Linked DNA regions of Homo sapiens: all the other regions are linked to region 1. Evidence: fine-mapped expression QTL. A gene starts in region 1. Each other region holds a variant in brackets. All regions are shown on one strand. Distances are from middle to middle. Region 1 holds the start of DNAJA3 (DnaJ heat shock protein family (Hsp40) member A3). Region 2 overlaps DNAJA3 (DnaJ heat shock protein family (Hsp40) member A3). Region 3 overlaps DNAJA3 (DnaJ heat shock protein family (Hsp40) member A3).

Region 1 (4,126 bases):
TCTCGGCTCACCGCAACCTCCGCCTCCTGGGTTCAAGCAATTCTCCTGCCTCAGCTTCCCGAGTAGCTGGGATTACAGGCATGCGCCACCACATCCAGCTAATTTTGTATTTTTAGTAGAGACAGGGTTTCTCCATGTTGGTCAGGCTAGTCTCGAACTGCTGACCTTAGGTGATCCGCCTGCCTCAGCCTCCCAGAGTGCTGGGATTACAGGCGTGAGCCACCGTGCCTGGCAGGACCGGTGGTTTTTAATCTTCGAGTCTCAATGCCTGTGGAGAATTTGACGAAAGCTATGGGTATCTACCCAAATTAACATCCACGTACACAAAAATTTGGTGTACAATGCTGGGAGTAGCGGGGAGGGGGAGTAGCACAGATTCCCAGGCTTTGGGGATGGGGGTGAAGATTTATGAGCACAGTTTGTTTTAAATCCAAACAAGAATCCTCAGGTTTTTTCCCCATTGCTTGAGGTGGTTATGATGGTGGGAGTGTGAAAATTGAAAGTCCTTTGCAAGACTAACCAGGTCAGGTCTCCCTTCCTAGCCTCATCTCATCACATACTTTTTTTTTTTGAGACAGAGTTTCGCTCTTTTTGCCCAGGCTGGAGTGCAATGGCGTGATCTCGGCTCACTGCAACCTCCACCTTCCGGGTTCAAGCCATTCTCCTGCCTCAGCCTCCGGAGTAGCTGGGATTACAGGCATGCGCCACCACGCCCGGCTAATTTTGTATTTTTAGTAGAGACGGGGTTTCTCCATGTTGGTCAGGCTGGTCTCGAACTCCGGACCTCAGGTGATCCGCCCGCCTCGGCCTCCCAAAGTGCTGGGATTACAGGCGTGAGCCACTGCGCCCGGCCACCACTTCTTTTCTTTTTTTTTTTTTTTTTGAGATGGAGTTTCTCTTGCCCAGGCTGGAGTGCAGTGGCGCGATCTTGGCTCACTGCAACCTCCGCCTCCTGGGTTCAAGCGAGTCTCCTGCCTCAGCCTCCCGAGGAGCTGGGATTACAGGTGCGTGCTACCATGACTGGCTAATTTTTGTATTTTTCGTAGAGACGGGGTTTCACCATGTTGGCCAGGCTGGTCTGGCACTCCTGACCTCGTGATCCGCCGGCACCTCGGCCTCCCAAAATGCTGGAATTACAGGCGTGAGTCACCGCGACCGGCCTCATCACATACTCTTAAATTTAGGGTTTAAGCAAAGAAGGCAAACACTTTCATATCTTAGACATTTGTTTCTTAAGTTCAGGCTACTTGGAATACTCCATCCCTACCTGACACACTTTTCATCGATGTTCAGTTTGAATCTTACCTCTTAGAAGCCCTGACATCCCAAACTTCCTCTCTCCCATTTTAGAAATGGAATGACTCCTTCACCTTGTATGACTGTAACAGTGCTTATTCCTGTGATAGCATTTAACATTGTTAGTTGCTAAGGAGCCTCTCTCGAGTCATTGTTTGCTCCTCCCGAACAGGGATGGTGTATCAGGCATCACTGTATCCCCGATATTCTAGAACATGCATGACACACAGTAGGCGCTCACAAGTTTTACTAATTTAGTTTTTGGGCAGCACGGCTCCCATTCGGAACCAGCAAGTTCACTGCAGGTTTGGAGAAGGCTAACACGCTTAAGGAGAGAGCTGAGGTCGGCGCGGTGGCTCTCGCCTGTAATCCCAGCACTCTGGGAGGCCGAGACGGGTGGATCACGAGGTCAGGAGTTCAAGACCCAGCCTGGCCAAGATGGTGAAACCCCGTCTCTACTAAAAATACAAAAAAATTAGCCGGGCGCGGTGGCGCGCGCCTGTAATCCCTGCTACTCGGGAGACTGAGGCAGAGAATTGCTTGAACCCGGGAGGAGGAGGTTGCAGTGAGTTGAGATCGCGCCACTGCACTCCAGCCTGGCGACAGAGCGAGACTCTCTGTCAAAAAAAAAAAAAAGAAAAAAAGGAGAACTGAGTCTTGTTAGAGGAGGCGGGTGGGGAATCAGCCTAAGAGACAGTGAGACTGCGGCCAGGATTCTGAGGGTGGCGACGAAGATTTACTAGAAGCGCGCGGAGACGGCATGAGTAAAACTCACGCAATTCGTCGTAAGTCTCAGGGTCAGCAGGAGGAAACCACGCACTACATGCTGGGAGCGGCGCGACGGAGGACCGCGTTGTATGCTGGGACTTGTAGTCTCGCCCTTAGCCAGACCCCTCGGACCACTTAAGTTCGGCTACATTCAACCACGTCCTTACACCGATAACGTACACCCATTGGTTGTCTAGCACAGAATAGCGAGGTTCTGCACGGCGAGTCTACCTAACAACACTCTTCAGAGCAAACCCCGTTTCGGCGATGGCTACCCGGAAGGCGCGTTGGCTGCGGCTACGCGTACGGTGCGCCTGCGCGTGCGCGACGCATGCGCCTCTACGCGCGCCCGCCGTTCCCGCGAGGCCCACCTAGAGCCGGGCGGCGCAGGCGCAGAGTCCCCGGGCCAAGATGGCTGCGCGGTGCTCCACACGCTGGTTGCTGGTGGTTGTGGGGACCCCGCGGCTGCCGGCTATATCGGGTAGAGGGGCCCGGCCGCCCAGGGAGGGCGTGGTGGGGGCATGGCTGAGCCGCAAGCTGAGCGTCCCCGCCTTTGCGTCTTCCCTGACCTCTTGCGGCCCCCGAGCGCTGCTGACATTGAGACCTGGTGTCAGCCTTACAGGTGAGGGCAGGTTCCAACTTCCGAGTGGCGGTTTCAGGGCCTAGAAAAGAGTGAGTCTCCTCGCTGTGACTACGGCTGCAGGGGTAGTGGGGTGGAGGGTGTCTTCCGACGCGGATGCACAATTGCCGGAGACACAGACAGGCAGGAGGCGGGGAGGCCCCAGTGGCTGCTCAGCCGTCAAGGAAGGGAGAGAAGCGTGGAGCCCCCGGCGGCGGTGATGAAACGCCCCGTAGATCGTGAACCTTCACCTCTCTGTCAACATTTCTGGAGGCCGCTGCTCCCTCGTCCTCTTCCTTTCCCATCTCTCCACCTTCTAGCCCGTAGCGGAAGGGAAGAGCTAACTGCCATTCGGAGAGGCCTAGGTACTTTGTTACAACAACCCTGCAAGATGCCTGCCGTCATCACCATTTTAAAGAATGAGAAACTGAGATTCAACGGAGGAATCGACCAGCCCAAGGTCATGGAGTTAGACTAGAAGAGTTGTCTCAAACCCAAAGCAGTCATGTCATAGTTTACGCTCTTTCTACCACGTGGTGCTAATTGAAGGGCACAGTTAACAATCTTTTTAGAAGTCTTTAGTTGGTGATTGTAATAATAACACAGTCAGACATTTATTGAGCACTTACTGTTGGCCAGGCATGGTTTTCCCCTTACATCACATTTCCACATGATAGGCACTGTTATTCCATTTTATAAAGATACTGAGGCTTAGATGTTAAACCACTTATAAATGTCACAAGGAGGTGGAGGCTTGATATCATTGCCTGAGATGACACTGAATTATACATTAAGCCTTGAAGTGCTTAGTCATGTTTTCTTTTCTTTTCTTTTCTTTTTTTTTTTGAAACTGAATCTTGCTCTGTTGCCCAGGCCGGAGTGCAGTGGCTCAATCTCGACTCACTGCAACCTCCGACTCCTGGGTTCAAGAGATTATCCTGCCTCAGCCTCCCCAGTAGCTGGAACTAGAGGCATGCGCCACCACGCCTGGCCAATTTTTGTATCTTTAATAGAGACGGGATTTCGCCATGTTGGCCAGGCTGGTCTCAAACTCCAGACCTCAGGTGATCCGCCTCCCCTTGGCTTCCCAAAGTGCTGGGATTACAGGCGTGAACCACCGTGCCCTGCTTAGCCTTCTTTTCTTATGCCGTGTGTTTTGTGCTGTGTGTTGTACGTACCTGAATTGTGCTAGTTTTGTGTCCTCTAGAATTTGTGCAAATGGTATTTAAGCTATCTATAAATTTATAAAGATTAATTAAAGGGCCCTGACAAGATAATTTATACCAACTAACTTCCTGTTGCAATCCAGTTTGTAATAGTTACATAGTAGACAATCATTAAAGTATCAGTAATTGTGGTTACTTCATGCAATGTAAAGAAAAGAGCCTGGGCTTCAGGGGTGAACTTCCCCAGCGTCTGTGAGCGGGGTGTATTATTTAACCC
Region 2 (4,126 bases), 21 kb after region 1:
TTGGGCCTTTCCTCTCTTCGGGTGGGTGTGGCTGAGGCTGCTCCCATGTAATCAAAGCTTCACAGGAACATGTCTCGCCATTCATGTTTCTGAGGGGCACAGTGGCCACCTAGATGTGGTTTTTAGCTGTTTGTTACCTTCAAGATTCTGTGCCTTGTGTGGAGAGAAGACAACTTCTTCAACATGCTAACAAGTTAGAAATACAGGTCACATAAAAATACAGGAAACATCTTGTGTTTTTATGATAAGATTGTTGATGAGGCAGTGAGTGTGAAAGTTACAATTTTACATACTGTATACAGGGGCAAACCTTGGTTTTCTGAGATGGTGGAAACATTAATGAAGACAATGCCTTCTACTGGCAATTGCCCTCCTATGTGTACACCTGAGAAAAACCCACACAAGCCTAGCAGGCGATAGGTACAAAGGGGTGCACAAGAGTCCTGTCCATGGTAGCAAGACACTGCCTTCCTCCAACAAGAGAATGGCTCAGTGAGCCGTGGTGGTCAGAGGCTGCTGCAGGGCAGTCGGAAGGAAAGAATGAGAGCTGAACTCAAGGGATGCTCCAGGCGTTGCAGGTACAGACAGCAGGGATGGAAGGCAGCTTGCCAGTGGCTGTAGGGCCTCAGAGACCATCTGTGTAAAGTTTTAAAACCTGTGAGATGGCATTATGTATTATTTAGGGACACGGAAATACATAGTAAGTAGAAGCTTGTAGGAATGATAAATGTTAAAGTCAGGGTTGTGGTTAGCTGAGGAGGGCAAGACTCACCGGTGTTTATGATGTTTTATTTTATTTTACTTTATTTTTTGAGGTGGGGTATTGCTTTGTTGCCTAGGATGAAATGCAGTGGGGCAGTCTTGGCTCACTGTAGCCTCAGACTCCCTGGGCTCAGGTGATCCTCCCACCTCAGCCTCCTGAGTAGCTGGGACTACAGGCACACGCCACCAGGCCCGGCTGACTTTTGTATCTTTAGTAAAGATGAGGTTTCACCATGTTGCCCAGGGTGGTCTCAAACCCCAGGGCTCAAATGATCCACCCACCTTGGCCTCCCAAAGTGCTGGGATTACAGGTATGAGCCACTGCGCCCGGCCTGTGATATTTTGTTACCTCCACTGGGTTGTGGGTATGACATGCTTGTTATATTATTTACTCTTCCCTTTTTTTTCTTTTTTTTTTCTGGAAAGAGAGTCTTGCTCTGTTGCCCAGTCTGGAGTGCAGTGGCATGATCTCAGCTCACTGCAACCTCCACCTCCCAGGTTCAAGCGATTCTCTTGCCTCAGCCTCCTGAGTAGCTGGGACTACAGGCATGCGCCACTACACCCAGGTAATTTTTGTATTTTTAGTAGAGATGGGGTTTCACCATGTTGGCAGGCTGGTCTCGAATTCCTGACCTCAGGTGATCCACCCACCTTAGCCTTCCAAAGTGCTGGGATTACAAGCGTGAGCCACCACGGCTGGCCTATACTTTCTAATAAAGTAAGATTTTTTTTTTTTTTTTTTTGAGGTGGAGTCTCGCTCTGTTGCTCAGGCTGGAGTGCAGTGGTGTGATCTCTGTTCAGTGCAAACTTCATCTCCCAGGTTCAAGTGGATCTTCTGCCTCAGCCTCCTGAGTAGCTGGGATTACAGGGGCCCGCCACCACACCTGGTTAATTTTTGTATTTTTAGTAGAGACAAGGTTTCACCATGTTGGTCAGTCTGGTCTCAAACTCCTGACCTCAGGTGATCCACTCACCTTGGCCTCCCAAAGTGCTGGGATTACAGGTGTGTGCCACTGTGCCTGGCTAAAGTAAGATTAAAAAAAAAAAATCAAAAGCCAGTTTTACATTTTTGTTTCCCTTCACGATTGAATGGCTTGATCTGAGACTGAGGAAATCCAGGCACGCTTCCATTTCGGCATTTCAAGTGTGTAGAACATTGCAGTGTTGAAATATGTAGAACATGTCATTCCTGGGCCTGGGATGGTGTCTCCTTGTTGGAAGGACAGTTCTTTCCCTCAACACTGCACTTTATGTATGGAAGGGGTGTGTAGTTTGTCAGGTCTGAGCTTGGGCCTGGCCAGGCATGCAGCTGGTGTTTAGTCTGCAGTGGACTTATCTTCACATGCATCTGTCATGTTTGGCCTTAGGTGCAGAAAAGCCCTGTGTTCCGGAGGGACGGCGCAGACATCCACTCCGACCTCTTTATTTCTATAGCTCAGGCTCTTCTTGGGGGTACAGCCAGAGCCCAGGGCCTGTACGAGACGATCAACGTGACGGTAAGAGGGTGTGAGAACACCTTTGTCACCCCTGTACTTTATTGCTCTTTTTCTGAAATGGAAAAGAACTGACCAGTGGCCTGGAACCCATGAGTGACCAGCATGT[G/C]GGGGGGCACTCACAGGGGAGGACATGAGGAATTTTAGGCTGCTCCTTGAGTGTGGACCACAAGCCACAGGCCTTGAGTCTATAATCGCATGGGAAGCAGTTCCTGGCTGGCATCACTCCCACACTGGTTAGCGGGGCCTGGGAACTGGGCGCATTCAGGACACAGAAGGGTTCACCCTGGGTTGTGCTCTCTGCACTTGCTTCTGTCCAGTGTCTGGCTCCAAGAGCAGAAGACTCGGGCGGTGCATATCCCTTTTGCCACAGTGATGGCTGCCTGTGTGCTGCCAGCACCTGTCCCCCACCTCTCTCTTGACCTGCCCCTCCAGCTCTTCCCACCTCCAGGCCACATCATTCTCTGTATTCGCCTCAGAACCTTCTCCAGCTTCTTTGTGGGGAACCTTGGGGTAACCTCCATGAAGGAGGTGGGCATTTTGGGCCAAGGCTTTCTCCTCCATCTGGGGGCTATTCCCTGGCTTCTCCAGGGTCCTGTGGTTCCAAGGGCCAGGGAGCGACCTCAGCCACGCACCCTGTATTGGCTTTTCCTGCTTTGCTCCCTCACTCCTGCTTCCTGGGCTCACTTGCCCAAACTCTTGCCCCCTCATCCTAGTCACAGGCTCTGCTCTGGGCAGACCCAACTTAGCTCATTTCCATGTGCTTGTGGGCGGGCTTGGCCCAGAAACCCAAGTGGTGGTTCTTTTTTTTTTTTTGAGATGGAGTCTCGCTTTGTCGTCAGGTGCACGCCACCACACCTGGCTAATTTTTTGTATTTTAGTAGAGACAGGGTTTCACCGTATTTCCCAGGCTGGTCTTCAACTCCTGATCTCAGGCAGTTCACCCGCCTCGGCCTCCCAAAGTGCTGGGATTAAAAGGCGTGAGCCACTGCGCCCAGCCCAGTGGCAGTTCTTTTTTTTTTTTTTTTTTTTTTTTGAGACAGAGTCTTGCTCTGTCGCCAGGCTGGAGTGCAGTAGCGCGATCTTGGCTCGTGGCAATCTCCGCCTCCCAGGTTCAAGCGATTCCCACCTCAGCCTCCTGAGTACCTGGGCCTACAAGCACGCGCCACCATGCCTGGCTAATTTTTTGTATTTTAGTAGCGATGGGGTTTCACCATGTTGGCCAGGAAGGTCTCAATCACCTGACCTCGTGATCTGCCTGCCTCAGCCCCCCAAAGTGCTGGGATTACAGGCATGAGCCACTGCGCCCGGCCTTTTTTTTTACCCACCCCCTCCACCACCGCTCTGCCGAGACAGAGTCTTGCTCTGTCAGCCAGAGCTGGAGTGCAATGGCACAATCTTGGCTCACTGCAACCTCCGCCTCCCGGGTTCAAGCAATTCTCCTACCTCAGCCTCCTGAGTAGCTGAGATTACAGGTGCACGTTACCATGCCCTGCTGATTTTTGTATTTTTAGTAGAGACGGGGTTTCATCATGTTGGCCAGGCAGGTCTTGAACTCCTGACCTCGTGATCAGCCTGCCTCGACCTCCCAAAGTGATGGGAGCGTGAGCCAGTGGTAGTTCTTTTCAAGGAATTCCTATCAAGATTGTCTTCATGTAGTGAAAACTTTTTATTTGAGCAACTGGGGACCAGGGGAAACCACAGATTTTCTTTCTTTATAGATCCCCCCTGGGACTCAGACAGACCAGAAGATTCGGATGGGTGGGAAAGGCATCCCCCGGATTAACAGCTACGGCTACGGAGACCACTACATCCACATCAAGATACGAGTTCCAAAGTAAGTGCCCCCTAGGCTGTGGCCAAGCCCGCCT
Region 3 (4,126 bases), 28 kb after region 1:
TTGGGAGGCAGGGGCAGGTGGATCACTTGAAGTCAGGAGTTTGAGACCAGCCTGGACAGCATGGCGAAACCCCATCCCTACTAAAAATACAAAAATTAGCTGGGTATGGTGGTGCATGCCTGTAATCTCAGCTACTCAGGACGCTGAGGCAGGAGAATCGCTTGAACCCAGGAGGCAGAGGATGCAGTGAGCCAAGACCACACCACTGCACTCCAGCTTGGGTGACAGTGAGACTCTCTGAAAAAAAAAAAAAAAAAAAAAAAAAGGGCCTGGCGCGGTGGCTCACGCCTGTAATCCTAGCACTTTGGGACGCCGAGGAGGGTGGATCACGAGGTCAGGAGTTTGAGACCAGCCTGACCAACATGGTGAAACCCTGTCTCTACTAAAAAAAAAAAAAAAATACAAAAACTAGCGGGGCATGGTGGTGGGCATCCATAATCCCAGCTACTCTGGAGGCTGAGGCAGGATAATTGCTTGAATCCAGGAGGCAGAGGGTGCAGTGAGCCAAGATTGCACCACTGCACTACAGCCTGGGTGACATAGCGAGACTCTGTCTCAAAAAAACAACAACAAAAAAGCAGCTGCCACAAAACTCTGTAGCCCAACCAGGTTCCAAATGTCACTTATTTTAATGGTTTGGTACATATACTGTGTATATGTATACTATCTTTTGTTCTTGTTGTATCTCTTGAACTAAAATAGAAGTGGTAATAGAGTAGCTATTCCCCGGAACTCTAATCAGTGCACCTGTGGCTTCTCCTTCCTCAAACCCTACAATCACATAACATGCGAGATTGGTTCCATAGACAGCTGTCCTTCCCTCCTCCCGCCCATCAGGGTAGCTTGAGGTGTGCTACGGCCGGGCCCTGGGTGGGTTCGTGGGTGTTGCTTACTCTGTTGGAGGTTGGGTATTACTGGTCACCAGTTGATGTTTTGACCCTCTCTCTGATACTGTAAGTTGAAAGTTGATTCCGCCACCCACTGAGATCCTTTGTCACTTCCATGGTTACTTGTCCTGATCACTCAGCCTCACTCAGCTGTTCCCTCACTCAGCCAGGATGTCTTCTCCTGTGTGCAAGACACTGTCAGCTCTTCCTTTTAAAGATCTTGGTGAGGCCGGATGCAGCGGCTCACACCTATAATCCCAGCACTTTGGGCGGCTAATGCAGGAAGATCACTTGAACCCAGGAGTTCGAGACCAGCCTGGGCAATATAGCGAGACTCTGTCTCTACAAAAAATTTCAAAACTAGCCAGGTGCAAAGTAGTATGCACCTCTATCACCAGCTACTTGGGAAGCTGAGATGAGAAGATCACTTGAGCCTTAGTACTCAAGGCTGCGGTGAGTCATGACAGCGACACTGTACTCCAGCCTGGGTGCCAGGGCAAGACTCTGTCCCTAAGCATACACCGTCACATGTCAGTCTGCTGCCTGTGGGTGGTTAAGTCTCTCATTATACTGTGAAGACAGTTAGTTTTGCATCCACATATGACAGTATTACAGGACATATAATTCTCATGTCCTAAGAACTTAAGCAACAGTGGGATTTATTTATTTATTTGAGGCAGAGTCTTGCTCTGTGGCCCAGCCTGGAGTGCAGTGGTGCAGTCATAGCTCACGGCAGCCTCAAACTCCTGGACTCAAGTGATCCTCCCACCTTGGCCTCCCAGAGTGTTGGAATTACAGACATGAGCCACTGTGCCTGACCAGCATAGTTTTTGATGCGTTTAGTATCTTAATGTAGCTGCTGAAAACCTTAAGAGCTGACCCCGGTCTCCCAGAAAGACCATGGTGTGCTTAGAGACTCAGCACTTGCAGGGATAAACAGGTCCATCTTCTGGCGAACAGAGAGGGAACTGGGGGGGCTTGCAATTACTATGTGACTTTTTGAGTGAGAGACACAGTATGGCTCCTTGTTGTTCTTTTTTTTTTTTTCTTTTTTTGGAGACGGAGTCTCACTCTGTCACCCGGGCCGGAGTGCAGT[G/A]GCGTGATCTCGGCTCACTGCAACGCACTCTGCCTCTTGGGTTCAACCAATTCTGCCTCAGCCTCCCGAGTAGCTGGGACTACAGGTGCATGCCGCCCCTGGCTAATTTTTTGTATTTTAGTAGAGATGGGTTTCACCATGTTCGAGGCCGGTCTCGAACTCCTGAGCTCAGGCAATCCGCCTGCCTTGGCCTCCCAAAGTGCGGGGATTACAGGCGTGAGCCACTGTGCCCGGCCTTTTCTTTTTTGAGACTGGGTCTCACTCTGTTTTATGTAGCCTCCCTCACCCCTTCCCGGGGACCTGTGGCCCCAAACTTTGGACCTTTCACTAGCGAAGGCACCTTCTTACTTAGACTGAGGCCTTTACTCTTTTATGCACTGTGCGTGGCCTAGGTCTCTGAGCACATTAAAAATGAGCTCTACAATTAACATGCCAAGTTCAGGTCTATATTCTAACTCACAACAAAAGTGTGCACTCCTTGTCTAGTAGTTGGCAAATCTGTAACACGTTTGTGTGAGAAAGTACCTCTAGATGGTGTCAGCCTGGGCCCTAAAGAAATTGCAGCACAGCTTCCCTAGGTTGAGAGCATTTAGGTTAGGTGCCCCAAATGGGGACAACTTGCTCAGGGAGATAGACTGCTGATGTGAGGGATGAGATGGAGTGCCTGTGACAAAGGATTGTGCGTGGCCGTGACTCCCACATGGGCTGTTCTGCAGGGTCTTTGCGCACACAGCAGCATGGAATCTGGCCAGTTGGTCTAGAGTAGGGTTTTTCTTGGCAGTCATTATTTACCTTCTTATAGCCAACAGCATGGTGGTTGAGTCTCAGCTTTGGAGTCAGACTGCATGGGCTCGCACTCAGTCCTCCCTCCCGCTTGTTGGCTCTGTGGCCTTGGGTAAACCCTGTAACCTCTCTGTGCCTCCTTTTTTTGTTTTTTCATCTGTGAAATTTGCCTGTAAGGAAGTGTATGGCCTGGCCTGGGAGGTGCCTGGCACTTGACTGTGTTTTTGTCACTGTTGCTCAGATAGAGACAGCTGTCATAGTCCGTCTCTATTTCTTGTTTCCCTGCTGTGGGTCCTTGATTGAAAGAGCAGTTGGGAGACCCTCAGGCTCTGAGTGGCCTGTTCACCTCAGTCGTCTGCAAGGTGAGGCATCCTGTGCCATCTTAGGAGTGGCCCCCACTCTTCTTGAGGTGGCACTTGGCCGCTTCTTGAACGTGGGCCCCTGGGTGGCCAGGCGGGGGTAGGTGGGCCCTGGGATGTGACTGTGGAAGTGCAGGCCCATGACGCCAGTTCTTTCTGCTGTTTGTGCCCAGGTGGCAGCACCATGGATAGCTCCGCAGGAAGCAAGGCTAGGCGTGAGGCTGGGGAGGACGAGGAGGGATTCCTTTCCAAACTTAAGAAAATGTTTACCTCATGATATCCCAGCCGAGGTAGGAAAACCCTGGAGGTTTTTTTTCCCTTTGTTTTCCTCTGTGAACTAATCCTGGTTTTCTCCCACTTTAACCAATATTGTGCCCCCACCCCCAGGAGTTGGAACAGGTGCCAGTCCAAGGTGTGGTAAACCTAGCTCCACTAGGAGCTGGCCTCTCAGCCTAGGGAATAGATGACGTGGCAATCAGCCTGTAGTGCAGGACTGGCTGGGCTGCCGCGGCCAGCCTCTGGCTGTGTCTTCTTCCTGGGGAGGTGGCGATGCTGGGGCTGTTGTACAGCCCCCCTGCAGTGGTGGGTCCGGCTTGCCCATGGTCACAGAGGGCGAGTCAGGCAGAGCCAGGCCTAGAACTCAGATCTCCTCACGTCCTGCCTGCTTGGAAGCTGCCCTCCTGCGTGGACAGCGCAGGGCTGTGCAAGCCTGGGGGCTGCTCCAGGGGTAGCGCTTGCTCGCCGTGTCATCTTGGGACCCACTTTGGTTTATTATGCTCATCTCAGCAAGTGGGGTTCTCGCCCCTCTCTTGGCACAGCTGCTTTCCAGGGATTAACAGACGCTCCCCACAGGGGTGTGTTCCCTTGAAATGTTGAGTATAAGGTAACAGCCTATCTCTTTGGCTCAGGAAAAAGATCCACTGGAAACTAGGCCGGGAAGCAGCAGCCCCTCCAAGGGCCAGGGCACCTGGGAGACGGGAGGATTCCAGAACAGCAGCACT

The links. PIP is the estimated chance that this variant, and not a neighbour inherited with it, causes the effect. A credible set is the group of variants that fine-mapping cannot tell apart.
Region 2: its variant is the best candidate, but not a certain one, in a credible set for the expression of DNAJA3 in fibroblasts (GTEx, PIP 0.70).
Region 3: its variant is the best candidate, but not a certain one, in a credible set for the expression of DNAJA3 in whole blood (INTERVAL, PIP 0.84).

Annotation. Positions count from the first base shown.
Region 1 is chr16:4,423,407-4,427,532 of GRCh38, forward strand. It overlaps DNAJA3 (DnaJ heat shock protein family (Hsp40) member A3), which reads left to right and starts at 2,462. Exons shown (of 12, transcript NM_005147.6): 1 at 2,462-2,686. The coding sequence starts at 2,476. LOC124903635 (a long non-coding RNA gene) reads right to left here and starts at 2,383. Exons shown (of 3, transcript XR_007064963.1): 1 at 2,072-2,383.
Region 2 is chr16:4,444,757-4,448,882 of GRCh38, forward strand. DNAJA3 (DnaJ heat shock protein family (Hsp40) member A3) reads left to right here. Exons shown (of 12, transcript NM_005147.6): 8 at 2,130-2,258; 9 at 3,977-4,092. Among named protein-coding and RNA genes, the nearest start is that of DNAJA3, 21 kb to the left of the region's middle. The variant G/C (reference allele first, on the strand shown) is at 2,365.
Region 3 is chr16:4,451,513-4,455,638 of GRCh38, forward strand. DNAJA3 (DnaJ heat shock protein family (Hsp40) member A3) reads left to right here. Exons shown (of 12, transcript NM_005147.6): 11 at 3,299-3,415; 12 at 4,034-4,126. The coding sequence ends at 3,402. Among named protein-coding and RNA genes, the nearest start is that of NMRAL1, 21 kb to the right of the region's middle. The variant G/A (reference allele first, on the strand shown) is at 1,984.